Linked DNA regions of Homo sapiens: regions 1, 2 and 3 are each reported to be linked to region 4. Evidence: microRNA targets listed by miRTarBase, many of them from high-throughput screens and not tested one by one. Region 4 holds a microRNA gene; each other region holds the end of a gene's coding sequence.

Region 1 (3,099 bases), not on the chromosome of region 4:
TATCCTTTGAAACCGATATTCACCCATTTAAGTGATGAAGCTTCAGGGCTCAGAAAGAGTGAGAAATTTGCCAAAAATTCTACAGCCAATCCAAGCAGAGCCAGGACTCCAAGGTAGGACCTGCGCCCAGGTGTGTAGCCTGTACCCCGAGCAGCTCCAGCACCGCCATCCACACACAAGACACAAATGAGAGCGTGCTCTCCAGACCTGTACAGCGCATGGCCTGCCAAGCTTTAGACCAAAGCCCCGACTCCAATCCAGGGGCCCGACTACAAAGCTGGTATTTTTCTTTACTCCATATCAAGCCCTTGGCTAAGAAATGGGGATTTCCAAGCCCACAGCTGCTCTTGTTTCTCCCCACAGTGCTCCTACATCCCAGGCAGCGTGGACAATTACCAGACGGCCCGGGCCGACGTGGAGAAGGTCAGAGCCAAATTCCAAGAGCAGCAGGTCTTCTACTGCTTCTCCGCACCTCGGGGGAACGAAACCAGCGTCCTATTCCAGCGCCTCTACGGGCCCCAGGCCCTCCTCTTCTCCCTCTTCTGGCCCACCTTCCTGCTGACCGGTGGCCTCCTCATTATCGCCATGGTGAAGAGCAACCAGTACCTGTCCATCCTGGCGGCCCAGAAGTAGAGCCATCCATCCATGCCATACCACTTGTCAGGGCACAGGGGACTGGCTGGGCCCCCAGGGCTGCTCCCCACTTGCAGCACAATGCCTTCTCCACCTGCCCTCCCACTCTTCCAGTCCAATCCACGCTGTCTTCTGTTGCAGGACTAACCTTTGAGAAATCCTTTTGTGAAGTCATTGCCTGCTCAAGAATGTACAGTGGCTCCCCAATGCCTTGGAGGCCATAAGGCCAGCCAGTTCTAGCTCTCTATTACCTGTCCCCACTCAACTGACTCATACCTGTTTCCGGCTGCATCACTATGTGCCCCACAGAGAACGATGATCGTCACCTCTGTGCCTGAGTTCTCCCTGTTGTCTCAAAGCGGTACCCATCCTCCCCCAGAAGCTGTCCCCAGCGAGCCTCCCTTCTTTGTTTGAATTCTCTAATAAGAGCAACAGCAGCTCCCATTTCTAGAACACATTTACAGTATTACTATTTTCTAGGATATAAAGTGCCATATATATTTTTAATTCCAATATTAATAAATGTATGCCAAACAACAATCAGCTGCAAGGAAACACATGAGAACTCATCAAAATTTTAGCGGTGGGATGGTGGTTAATTTCTGTTTTCTTCCTTATCCCCTTTTTATTTTTGCTGCTTTTCTAAATTTTTGATTATAGGAAGGGTGTGTTTCGTTTGCTTTTAATCAGAAAAGCCATGGTAGATGCCATTTTGGAAAAGTTGAAAGAGTGTGTCCCCCTCACAGAAAAAGATGGAAGTGGGTCTGGGGACGGAGTTGGGTTCCAGTCAGAGACAGGCCATTCAGAACACACAATCTTAAAAACCCCTCTGGGCCGGGCGCGGTGGCTCACTCCTGTAATCCCAGCACTTTGGGAGGCCGAGGCTGGTGGATCACGAGGTCAGGAGATCAAGACCATCCTGGCTAACATGGTGAAACCCCGTCTCTACTAAAAATACAAAAAATTAGCCAGGCGTGGTGGTGGGCACCTGTGGTCCCAGCTACTCAGGAGGCTGAGGCAGGAGAATGGCGTGAACCCGGGGTTCGGAGCTTGCAGTGAGCCGAGATTGTGCCACTGCACTCCAGCCTGGTGATAGAACAAGACTCCGTCTCAAAAAAAAAACAAAAAACAAAAAATGAAAAACAACCCTCTGGAGGAAAGGTCATGATATAGAGGAGGATTTGTTATTTAAATTGAGGGTATGGACTCTGGCACTGAGCCTGCTGGGGAAGCCTATCTCAGATTTGAAAAGGGCAAAATGGGAAGAAGCCATCACCTTTACCATTCCCACTCCAGGAAGTTTTCCTAGAACGATGACTGTCCAAGTGTGGTCCCTGGGCCAGCAGCATCAGGATCCTGTGGCAGCTTGTGAGAAATGCACACTCTCAGGCCCCTGTCCCAGCCCCACCACGCCAGAAGCCCTGCACGGGGTGGGGGTAGCAATGTTCTGTGTTCTAACAATGCGTAGGGGATTCTGTGGCACACCTCGAGCCAGAGAACTACCGGTGTAGGAAGTGAGCGTCCTGTCGCGAGGATTTTCAGAGCAGGTGAGTGACCATTCGGCAGGGCCAGTCCTGAGCTGGGTGTGAAGTTAGGCTGGTGTCTGAAGTTTCTTCCAGTGTTGTGAGTCCAAGATGCAGATCTTGGGTTTGAATCCTGTCTCTACTCTGCCCGATTTCATCTCTTTGATTCTTAGTTTTTTCATCTATAAAAGAAGGACTCTTTCTGGATAGTTGGGAGGGCTGAAGGAATGTTTGACACATCATAGGTGTTTAAAATGGCAACTATAGTTTTTTTTGTTTGTTTTGTGTGTGTGTTTTTTTCTTAACTTTCATTTTAAGTTGCAGGGTACACGTTCAGGTTTGTTACATAGGTACACTTGTGTCAAGGGAGTTTGTTGTGCAGATTATTTCATCACCCAGGTATTAAGTCTAGTACCCATTATTAAAGAAAATGTGGTACGTATACGTCATGGAATATTATGCAGCCATAAAAAGGAAGGAGATCATGTCCTTTGCAGGGACATGGATGGAGCTGGAGGCCAAATATTATCCTTAGCAAACTAACACAGGGACACAAAACTAAATACTGTATATTCTCACTTATAAGTGGGAGCTAAATGATGAAAACACATGGACACAAAGAGGGGAACAACACACACTGAGGCCTATTGGAGGGCGGGAGGTAGGAGGAGGGAGAGGATCAGGGAAAAAGAGCTATTGTTAGTAACAAGAAAAAGTCGGCCGGGCGTGGTGGCTCACACCTGTAATCCCAGCACTTTGGGAGGCCGAGGTGGGCAGATCACGAGGTCAGGAGATCGAGACCATCCTGGCTAACACGGTGAAACCCTGTCTCTACTAAAAAATAGAAAAAATCATAGCCGGGCGTGGTGGTAGCCGCCTGTAGTCCCAGCTGCTCAGGAGGCTGAGGCAGAAGAATGGCGTGAACCCGGGAGGCGGAGCTTGC
Region 2 (3,000 bases), not on the chromosome of region 4:
TTTCCCAGCATTTCATGCTGTCGGTGCTTTGGATTTTGGCCATTCTAATAGTTGTATAGTGGTCTGTTGTTCTAACTTGCATTTTCCTGATGACATGTTATATGGAACATCTTTTCATATGCTTATTTGCCACCTGTCTATCTTCTTTGCTGAGATATGTTAAGGGTTTTGGCCTGTTTTTAATCAGGTTGTTTTCTTACTGTTGAATTTTAAGAGTTCATTGTGGTTTTTGATTTACATTTCCCTAATTAGTGATGTTGAACATATTTTCATGTTTTTTGACCTACAGTTTTGTGTGTGTGTGTGTGTGTGTTTTTTTGAGACAGAGTCTCACTCTGTTACCTGGCTGGAGTGCAATGGCATGGTCTTGGCTCACTGCAACCTCCACCTCCTGGGTTCAAGCGATTCTCCTGCCTCAGCCTCCTGAATAGCTGGGACAACAGGTGCCCACCACCACACCCAGATAATTTTTGTATTTTTAGTAGATACGAGGTTTCACTATGTTGGCCAGGCTGTTCTCGAAATCCTGACCTCGTGATCCGCCTGCCTCGGCCTCCCAAAGTGCTGGGATTGCAAGCGTGAGCCACTGCACCTGGCCTAGTTTTGTTTTTGTTTTTGAGACAGAGTCTTGCTGTGTTGCCCAGGCTGGAGTGCAGTGGCACAGTCTCAGTTTACTGCAACCTCTGCCTCCCAGGTTCAAGTGATTCTCCTGCCTCAGCCTCCGAAGTAGCTGGGATTACAGGTATGCATCACCACGCCCAGCTAATTTTTATATTTTTAGTAGAGAAAGGGGTTTCGTCATGTTGGCCAGGCTGATCTCGAACTCCTGACCTCAAGTGATCCACCTGCCTTGGCCTCCCAAAATGCTAGGATTACAGGCATGAGCCACCACGCCTGGCCTGACCTAGTTTAAGCACACCAAAAGCTACTTTACATTTTTAAAAAGTGAATTTGATGTCTTTTGAAATCTCCTCTGTGCACTTGGGGAAGTCCCTGTCCTCTATCAACTTGAGAGGCTGGCTGCTGTGCTCACAAGCCTTCATTTACACAGCAAGCCTTCCTTTCAGGACGGCTGCAAAACGGAAGCCTAAAACAGTAGATGGTGACAGAATGGTATTGTTACCAGCAGGGAAATGGCAAGCTCGCCCCCTGGTGACAAGCTGGGGAGACAACAGAAAAAGCAAATTTTTTTTTTTTTTTGAGACGGAGTCTCACTCTATCGCCCAGGCTGGAGGGCAGTGGCGCAATCTCAGCTCACTGCAAGCTCCGCCTCCCGGGTTCAAGCAATTCTCCTGCCTCAGCCTCCCCAGTAGCTGGGACTACAGGCGCCTGCCACCACGCCCGGCTAATTTTTTGTATTTTTTAGTAGAGATGGGGTTTCCCCGTGTTAGCCAGGATGGTCATGATCTCCTGATCTCGTGATCCACCCGCCTTGGCCACCCAAAGTGCTGGGGTTACAGGCGTGAGCCACCGTGCCCGGCCACAAATGTTCTTAAAAGGCACAACCACCACAAAGAACATACTCTCTACGGTACCTGGAATCTGGAAAGAACACTAATTAACACAAACCGTAGGTCACTCAAAATTGTTCATTCACAGGGACAGTTAAAAAGGCTCAGTTCCAGGGGACAAATGTGTCACAAAGTCCTTGCTTACAAACTCCTAGCTGAAGCTGCCTTGGGAAGAATCTGCTCCCTCAGCATGATGGGCAGTGCCAGGCGACTACACTGGAGGTGCTAATTTTTAACTGCCAATGTCTCTTCTAGACGATGGCAGGCTGATGTTTCATCTTCTTCAGCAACCCTGAAGCATAACAGCCTTTAAGCTGTATGTTGCACGTCCCTCTTGATCTCTGTGAATTTACTGAAAGATGTGACTCTAAAGGCAAAACGAAGCCCACACCAATGATTATGTAAGTCAGAGGGTGGTAGTTGTGACTATTTAACTGTTCTTAGTTCTTTAAGACCTCAATTACGTAAACCAAGATACGTTCTGATTTTCAAGCCATCCTAACCAAAATAATAATGATGAAAATGATGACAGCTGATTCCTTTAGGCCCCGGGGCTGCTAATTTTTCAAACTTCCTGCTATCCTCCCTTCCCTACTACCAATCTCCAGGGCTCTCTAGTTTGCTCCTATTTTTCACAGAGTTGCCAGAGTTTGAAAACTAAGACCCCCATAAACATGGCTATCTTCACAGAACATCCAGATGAAGGAATATTGACTGTAATAAACATTGTACAGAACACCCAGATAAAGGAATATTGACTGAAATAAACATTGTAGGCTATACTCCAGTAGCTGGGGCAATGGATCCATGTAAATGGAGCTACAAATTCAAGTCCCAAGTTTTTTTGCTCCAGCAGGTTGACCTTCAAGGGCTGCATCAGTCTTCAGAAACAGGAGCTGCCAGCCTCAAGCAGTTTGTTGCCTGGGAGGGAGGGTGGACCACATTACCCAAATGTTAAGGGTTGGACACCTTTCTGCTGTTCTTTGTGTAGCTGCTGGGCTCGATTTTTTAGCACCTCGGCCTTGGCCTCATCCTTATCAACACCATCCCCCAGCTTGTACATGCGACTGGCATTGGCACAGGCCCAGATATGACCCAGGTCACAGGCTTTCATGGAGTATTTACATGCCAGGTCCATGTCCTTGGGAAAGCCTGGGGCACCCTGCAGGAACATGGCACTGAGGTTGAAGCAACTGGAAGTATAGCCACCATCACAGGCCCTTGTGTAGTAGTCCCTGGCCTTTCCCAAGTCAGGCTGGCCATCCTCATTAACCTGTCCATCATGTGCCAGGAGGCCAACGTTGTGACATGCTGCTATTGACTTCTTTCCAGGCTTCTCACACGCCATCAAAAAGCACCTGGCGGCAGCTTTCAGGTCCTGGGTCAGACCACCTGAGAGGAAGGAAAGTAGGAAAAAATAAACCCAAGCCAGGGCACAACCTAAATGTCTCAGGCCAAAGTCAGTGAATTTTTTTTTTTTTTTTGGAGA
Region 3 (3,099 bases), not on the chromosome of region 4:
GGATTCCGTGAAAGATGGTACATGATAAGCACTTGATAAATCTGTCATTCTCTTTGAGGGATTACTTTATCTCTGGTATTCTCTTCCACTTAGAACACAGGTGAAATATTCATGCATTTTGTTTACTCAAAAGTCAAAAAAGTTTTTATTCTCTGATATATAAAACCAAGAAAACTTTAATACATAATATGCATAGTTTTGTTTTTTTAAAAGGAGAAAGTGGCAGAAGTACAGACCTGTGTAGAAAAATACACCCAAGCAGCTGTTCTAAGCAGTAATTCCTAAAATTATGAATAGCACACAAATCTCAGTGAAAGCCTCATTTCTTAAAAAAAAACTCACATTTGCTTAACAACTTAAAATGTGATAAGAAATATAACCTTCCTTCTTGATAGCCGACCCAGTTATATAACAGACATTCAAGAATCAGCAATAACTTAGTAAAAGAACATTTCCTTTGTGAGGGTAACATTATTAGTTTTAGTTCCACAAAAACTGCTTCTGACTGCTGGGGCACTGAACGACATGCCCTTCATCAGAGAGCAAGTCCGGGGGGTGCGGATCCTCACCGGAGAGGTCATGGGGAAGCATCTTTGGTCTTCTCTTGCTTAGGAACAAAGGGCCAGCAATCCATTGCATACAAATAACATCAAACACAGGTGCAGGAATTCACAACTCCTCAGCAAAAGCTATTTCTTAAAAATAGAACTTGCTTTTCACTTAATATTCAGAAAAAATGAAAATGCTGAGATGCAGTTTTCCCTCTTAGCAGTTCCATGTTCACGAAGTCAGGACAGTTCTGCCACTGACCAGCAGGTGGTGCTGGACCACAAGGAGAAGCAGCGGGAGGTACGCAGCTCCGACAACCTAGAAAAATATTTCTTTACCTGTATCTGTATGAAAGATTTGGTCAGAGTTCTCAAAGTATAAATGTAACATTTTATTCAAGCAAAACACATTATATAAAATTTAATTGTATCAAATAGGAATTTTTAAAATTACTAAATATATAAACGTTGCTGGAAGATCAACATAAAGTGAGGATGAATTTAGTATTTGTTAAAAATCACTAAGTTCCACGTGACTTCTTATAGTTAAAAGTGAGAACTGCCAGTGACCATTCTAGAAATGAAAATTAGCATGTATTGTGACTTACTAAAAGAAACGTCTGTTTCAGAAAACAAAGATGAGAACTCACGTGCAAATGACTGCATTCTCAAAGACATTGCTGGACATGTGCGATGCTTATCCTTCATTTCTGCTGAAAACATTTCCGAAATCGCCCTCAGAGTCAGTCAACCCACAGGAAAAGGGTCATCTTAGAGGCAATAGAGGCTTACATCCCAAATGGGACTGCTGAGCCCAGTCCAGCAGAGCTGCTGCTTCCTACCCTGGATTTCCCCTTGAGGCTGAATGGGCCACCTATGTGGGTCACAAAAATAGCCCCTGGTCTGGTGCTGTGGCTCACGTCTATAATCCTAGCATTTTTGGAGGCTGAGGGGGGACCGTATCACCTGAGGTCAGGAGTTCAAGACCAGCCTGACCAACGTGGTGAAATCCCATCTCTACTAAAAATACAAAAATTAGCTGGGTATGGTGGCATGTGCCTGTCCCAGCTCCTTGGGAGGCTGAGGCAGGAGAATTGCTTGAACCCAGGAGGCGGAGGTTGCAGTGAGCTGAGATCCCTCCAGCTTGGATGACAGAACAAGACACTATGTCTCAAAACAAACAAAAAAAAGCCCCGGAACAATTCCACAGCTGCGGGTGCCATAAGTGTGCTGGTGGGAGCTCTCCTGTCCCAACCGAATTATGACTATGAACAGTGTGAAAATCTGGAATTCATCTCCATGGTTGTACATGGACAGGTTTGGGTGTATTTTTTTTTTTTCCCGAGACAGAGTCTTGCTCTGTCACCCAGGCTGGAGTGCAGTGGTGCGATCTCAGCTCACTGCAACCTCTGCCTCCCGGGTTCAAGCGATTCTCCTGCCTCAGCCTCCCAAGGTAGCTGGGATTACAGGCGCCTGCCACCACACCTGGCTAATTTTTATATTTTTAGTAGAGACAGGGTTTCACCATGTTGGCCATGCTGGTCTCGACCTCCTGACCTCGTGATCAGCCCACGTAGGCCTCCCAAAGTGCTGGGATTACAGACGTGAGCCACTGCACCTGGCTGCATTCGTTATTAAAAACCAGCCTCTTGTCACGTACATCAGCACAGTCGGCCTCGCCTGCAAGTCAGCAGAGAGCACAGCAAGAATGCTGAGATATGTTGCATGGGCCAACTTACTTAAAAACATGAATTTGACTATTTTAAAAAAGTAATTTTAAAGCTTCACTTTAAAAACAAAGTATTTGTAAAAATTTTAAAAAGCATTTTTTTGCACTTGGTCAGATCTTTTCTATCACTTTGCAAAGGCGCCAAGACCTGCACTCAGGCCTGGTATAGAGTGTCTCTACAGGCGTTCATTTTAAGTTCTGTGGCGAAATTCTATAAAAATAGGCAATACTTGTGTTTTTATATCCGGAAGTTGAAACAAAGAGCAGCGTTGTTTTTGTGGTCACAAAAACAACAAAAAATGAGCGGATGCAGTCTGCAGGTCCTGTCCCTGTCCTTACCGGGGAACTGGAGCTAGGATTTGGGGGCCTCTCGGGAGTCTAGAGCGTGACCGCGGGCCCGTGCTCCTCCACGCCGCCTGGCGGCAGCGCCAGGCTGTGACGGGGGTCGGCCCGCAGGGAGCTGAGCAGCCGCTGGAGGCCGCCGTCCAGGGCCAGGTCCCGCTGCAGCCGCTGCGCCAGGCCCGCGCCATTGACCCGGGAGAGGCTGCCTGCGGGCGCGCCCGGGGTCTGGGGGGGACGTGCAGGCTCCAGTGTGCCCTCGATGACGACGTCGTTGTCCTCATCGCTCTCCGCCTCGTCGGGGTGGAAGTTCTGCAGGACGCGCGGGGCGGGGGGACCCACGAAGCCCGCGGTGCCGTCCGAGGGCGGTCCCGAGCTGCCCAACGCGCGGCCGCCGCGCACCACGTTGTTGCGCTGGTTGGCGGGCTTGACGGTGACGATGAGGTTGTGGCTGTTGGCGATCATCATGTCCGTGACCTGGTC
Region 4 (3,099 bases):
TTCTAATAGATTAATGAACATTTTCCTAAACATGAAGTACATAAATATAAAGATTGCTTTAGGAAGTGGGGAAATGCTTCTTTGGCAGGGTAAGGATGAATATTTAATGAACTCCATGCTTATCTCCTATCCAGAAGGCCAGCATTCCTTTGCTGCTGCTGCTGCTTTTTTTTTTTTTTTTGAGACAGAGTCTCGCTCTGTCACCCAGGCTGGAGTGCAGTGGTGTGATCGCAGCTCACTACAACCTCTGCCTTCTGAGTTTAAGTGATTCTTCTGCCTCAGCCTTCCAAGTAGCTGGGATTACAGATGTGTGCCACCACACCTGGCTAATTTTTGTATTTTTTAGTAAACATAGGGTTTTGCTATGTTGGCCAGGCTAGTCTCAAACTCCTAACCTCAAGTGATCTGCCCGCCTTGGCCTCCCAAAGTGCTAGAATTACAGGTGTGAGCCACCATGCCCAATCTTCCTTTGCTTCTTCATCATAAACTGACAGCATCTCCTTGTCAGGGAGACTTTTAAACTCTACTAAATGAAATTTCCCCATCAGCAAAATGGAGACAAAATTATCTAAAATTAGTAATACAAATAAAAATTCATATTGATTGTATGCTGACTCTGTGCTAGAGCTTAATGTACATGAATAGAGTGTCATTTAAGCCCTATAACAACCCATTTAGTATTTCCTTTTCATAGATGAGGAAGGTAAAGCTCAGAAAGTTTAGTTCACTTGAAGATGGACACACAACAAGCATGTGGCACTGTTAGGATCTTTTATACATAAACCTTGCCTTTGTTCTTTAAGAATTTAGCATTAACATTATTTATTTGTTTCTGTTTTAAGGATTATAGATTTTCAGTTGTGTGTAATACCAAGAGATTGCACTGTTTTCCAATTCTTATGAATATTATCAGCAATGGGCTACTTCAAATGTTTAATCACACACAACATATTCGAATTGAGTCAAGCCCATTTCCTCTTGTAAGTATTGGATTTACTGAGTCTAAACAATTAAGAATTGGACAAATAGCCTATGTTTTCTCTCTTTAGCTTTTAAATATCCATAAGTGATTGTTAAGCCTGAAAATTATTATTTTATCCTAATATTTTCAATGGGTTATAGCAAACAAAACAGGATTTTTTTTTCCTGCCAAGTTATCAGATAATTATCGTGAGGGAATACTTTTCAATATTTTGTCAGTCTTCTAGGCAATGTTTTGAAAAGTTGTACATACTTGATTGTGGAAGTGTATGAGAAAGAGAAACAGAAAAAAGAAAACACTGACTTGGAAATCAGGAGAACTTGTAACCCTGGTTACATATAAATCTATTATAATTAGTTAGTGGACCCTCCATTGACTAAATGTGTAGTAGACAGACTAATATGAAGGAGAATCTGCCAGTTCTGGGGCTATCTGTTGATTTATTTATTCACCTACTCATAGTTGCTCTATGTTGTGAGGGAGCCTAATACACACAGGCTGCATTGGATTCTGTGTCAGTTGGCTATAGTCTGGCTTCAGACAGTTTGGACACTAGAAAGCAGTGGTGGGAGACAGAAGAGCAGAGGACCCCCTACATTGGGCTCCAGTCACATCACCTCCTTCTGCTGTTCCTGAAGCCCAGAAGCAACAATAGCTTGCTTCTCACTTCACCATCTTTGTGGGATGCTCATCACCCACCTAACCATGTCATAAGGAATTGCACTCTAAGAACTTAACGTAGTCATGGTTTTCTGGTTAGACCCTGCCTGATACCAACAGGGGTGTCTCAAAGCTGACTCCAACTGTTTCACACCAGAAGTCTGAAACATCAAGAAGCAGGATTAGAAATGAAGCCATCCAAAGGGAAGTCCATTTTGTGACAAAAGTGTGAAGCTCAGTTTTGGCTTCACTGAATCAGTGGTGCTGGGAGTATATGCAAGCACAGGTTTTCTGTAAGCCATGGGAACAATGGGGATGAAATATACAGTACTTGAGATGTTCGTGACAGACACATACCTCCGTGAGTTGAGTATGACCGACTGATCACGTAAACAGGTCTGCTGCACAGGATGACTCGAGGGAAGGGGTGTCTGAAGGGAATTCTCCAGAAAGTGGAACCAGAGGAGTAGCAGAAAGAGACAGTGATTACCCTTCCTCTTTGGAACGATAGCAGCATGAACCTGTCTCACTGCAGAATTATTTTGAGACAGGCTTATGCTGCTATCCTTCAAAAGAACACATCCACCCAGCTACTGAGGTTTCCATCTCTGGGTTTGCTCAGAAAGACATGCTGCTCAGGCCTGAATTATGTGTTCATCAAAGGTCCTAACTTCTGAATTATTAGCTTCCTAATGCCATTGTGTTTGCTCAGGATCAAAATGGACTGAAGCCCATAGCTACTCTATTAGAAACCTGTTCCCCACTCCCACTTCCCCATGGCACACACCTTTCCTCCCTCATTCCTATGATGAAAAACAGAATTTATAGACATAGCCCTCAAAGTCTTAAATAAAGTTAAATAATTGTGGAATTATTTTGAGACAGGCTCATGCTGTTATCCTGTAATTATATCCATGAGGTGGTCCTAGATGCTGCTAGAGTGTCCACTTGGCCTAGCCTCAAGTGGATGCTGATTTGGGGGTAGTGATTTAAAGTTCCTTTCCCTGAAGTTAAGACAAGCAGCAACAAGTTTTCTTCTTGGTTCTGTGCTTCAGAACACATCCACCCAGCTACTGAGGTTTCCATCTCTGGGTTTGCTCAGAAAGACGTGCTACTCAGGCCTGAATTATATGTTCATCAGAGGTCCTAACTTCTGAATTATTGTTTTTTTGTTGTGGTAATAATACATGATATAAAATTGACCATTTTAGCTGTTTGCAAGTGTACAGTTGAGTAGTATTAAGTATATTCACATTGTTGTGAAATGCATCTCCAGAACTTTGCCGTCTTGCGGAATTGAAACTCGATGCCAATTAGCTTTCCCCCTCCCCCATCCCCTGGAAATAACCATCCTATTATGTTTCTATGAATATTACTAGTTTAGAAACCTTATATAAGTGGAATATTTGTCTTTTTGTAACTGGTTTATTTCACTTAGCATATTTTCCAGGTTCGTC

Evidence for each region. Region 4 holds the annotated microRNA hsa-miR-4524a-3p (UGAGACAGGCUUAUGCUGCUAU, at 2,186-2,207, shown strand). A microRNA usually pairs through its seed, bases 2 to 8, with sites in the 3' UTR of a target mRNA and lowers its output. Matches are read on the target gene's strand: a 7mer-m8 pairs with bases 2 to 8, a 7mer-A1 pairs with bases 2 to 7 and ends in A, and an 8mer does both.
Region 1: miRTarBase lists KCNMB1 as a target of hsa-miR-4524a-3p. Seed matches in the 3' UTR shown: 7mer-A1 at 983-989, 7mer-m8 at 2,290-2,296 and 7mer-m8 at 2,982-2,988.
Region 2: miRTarBase lists COA7 as a target of hsa-miR-4524a-3p. Seed matches in the 3' UTR shown: 8mer at 617-624 and 8mer at 319-326.
Region 3: miRTarBase lists PARD6G as a target of hsa-miR-4524a-3p. Seed matches in the 3' UTR shown: 7mer-m8 at 2,059-2,065 and 7mer-m8 at 1,892-1,898.

What each region holds. Positions count from the first base shown.
Region 1 is chr5:170,376,238-170,379,336 of GRCh38, reverse strand. It overlaps KCNMB1 (potassium calcium-activated channel subfamily M regulatory beta subunit 1), which reads left to right. Exons shown (of 4, transcript NM_004137.4): 4 at 364-3,099. The coding sequence ends at 633. It also overlaps a transcript of KCNIP1 not described here. Among named protein-coding and RNA genes, the nearest start is that of KCNMB1, 12 kb to the left of the region's middle.
Region 2 is chr1:52,685,266-52,688,265 of GRCh38, forward strand. COA7 (cytochrome c oxidase assembly factor 7) reads right to left here. Exons shown (of 3, transcript NM_023077.3): 3 at 1-2,903. The coding sequence ends at 2,455. Among named protein-coding and RNA genes, the nearest start is that of COA7, 12 kb to the right of the region's middle. RefSeq lists a silencer at 2,698-2,898.
Region 3 is chr18:80,157,116-80,160,214 of GRCh38, forward strand. It overlaps PARD6G (par-6 family cell polarity regulator gamma), which reads right to left. Exons shown (of 3, transcript NM_032510.4): 3 at 117-3,099. The coding sequence ends at 2,656. The region is part of intron 1 of PARD6G-AS1 (PARD6G antisense RNA 1); the gene reads left to right. Among named protein-coding and RNA genes, the nearest start is that of PARD6G-AS1, 11 kb to the left of the region's middle. RefSeq lists a silencer at 2,635-2,704.
Region 4 is chr17:69,098,678-69,101,776 of GRCh38, reverse strand. It overlaps MIR4524A (microRNA 4524a), which reads left to right and starts at 2,145; the gene lies at 2,145-2,213. It overlaps ABCA6 (ATP binding cassette subfamily A member 6), which reads left to right. Exons shown (of 39, transcript NM_080284.3): 22 at 843-980. It overlaps MIR4524B (microRNA 4524b), which reads right to left and starts at 2,235; the gene lies at 2,121-2,235.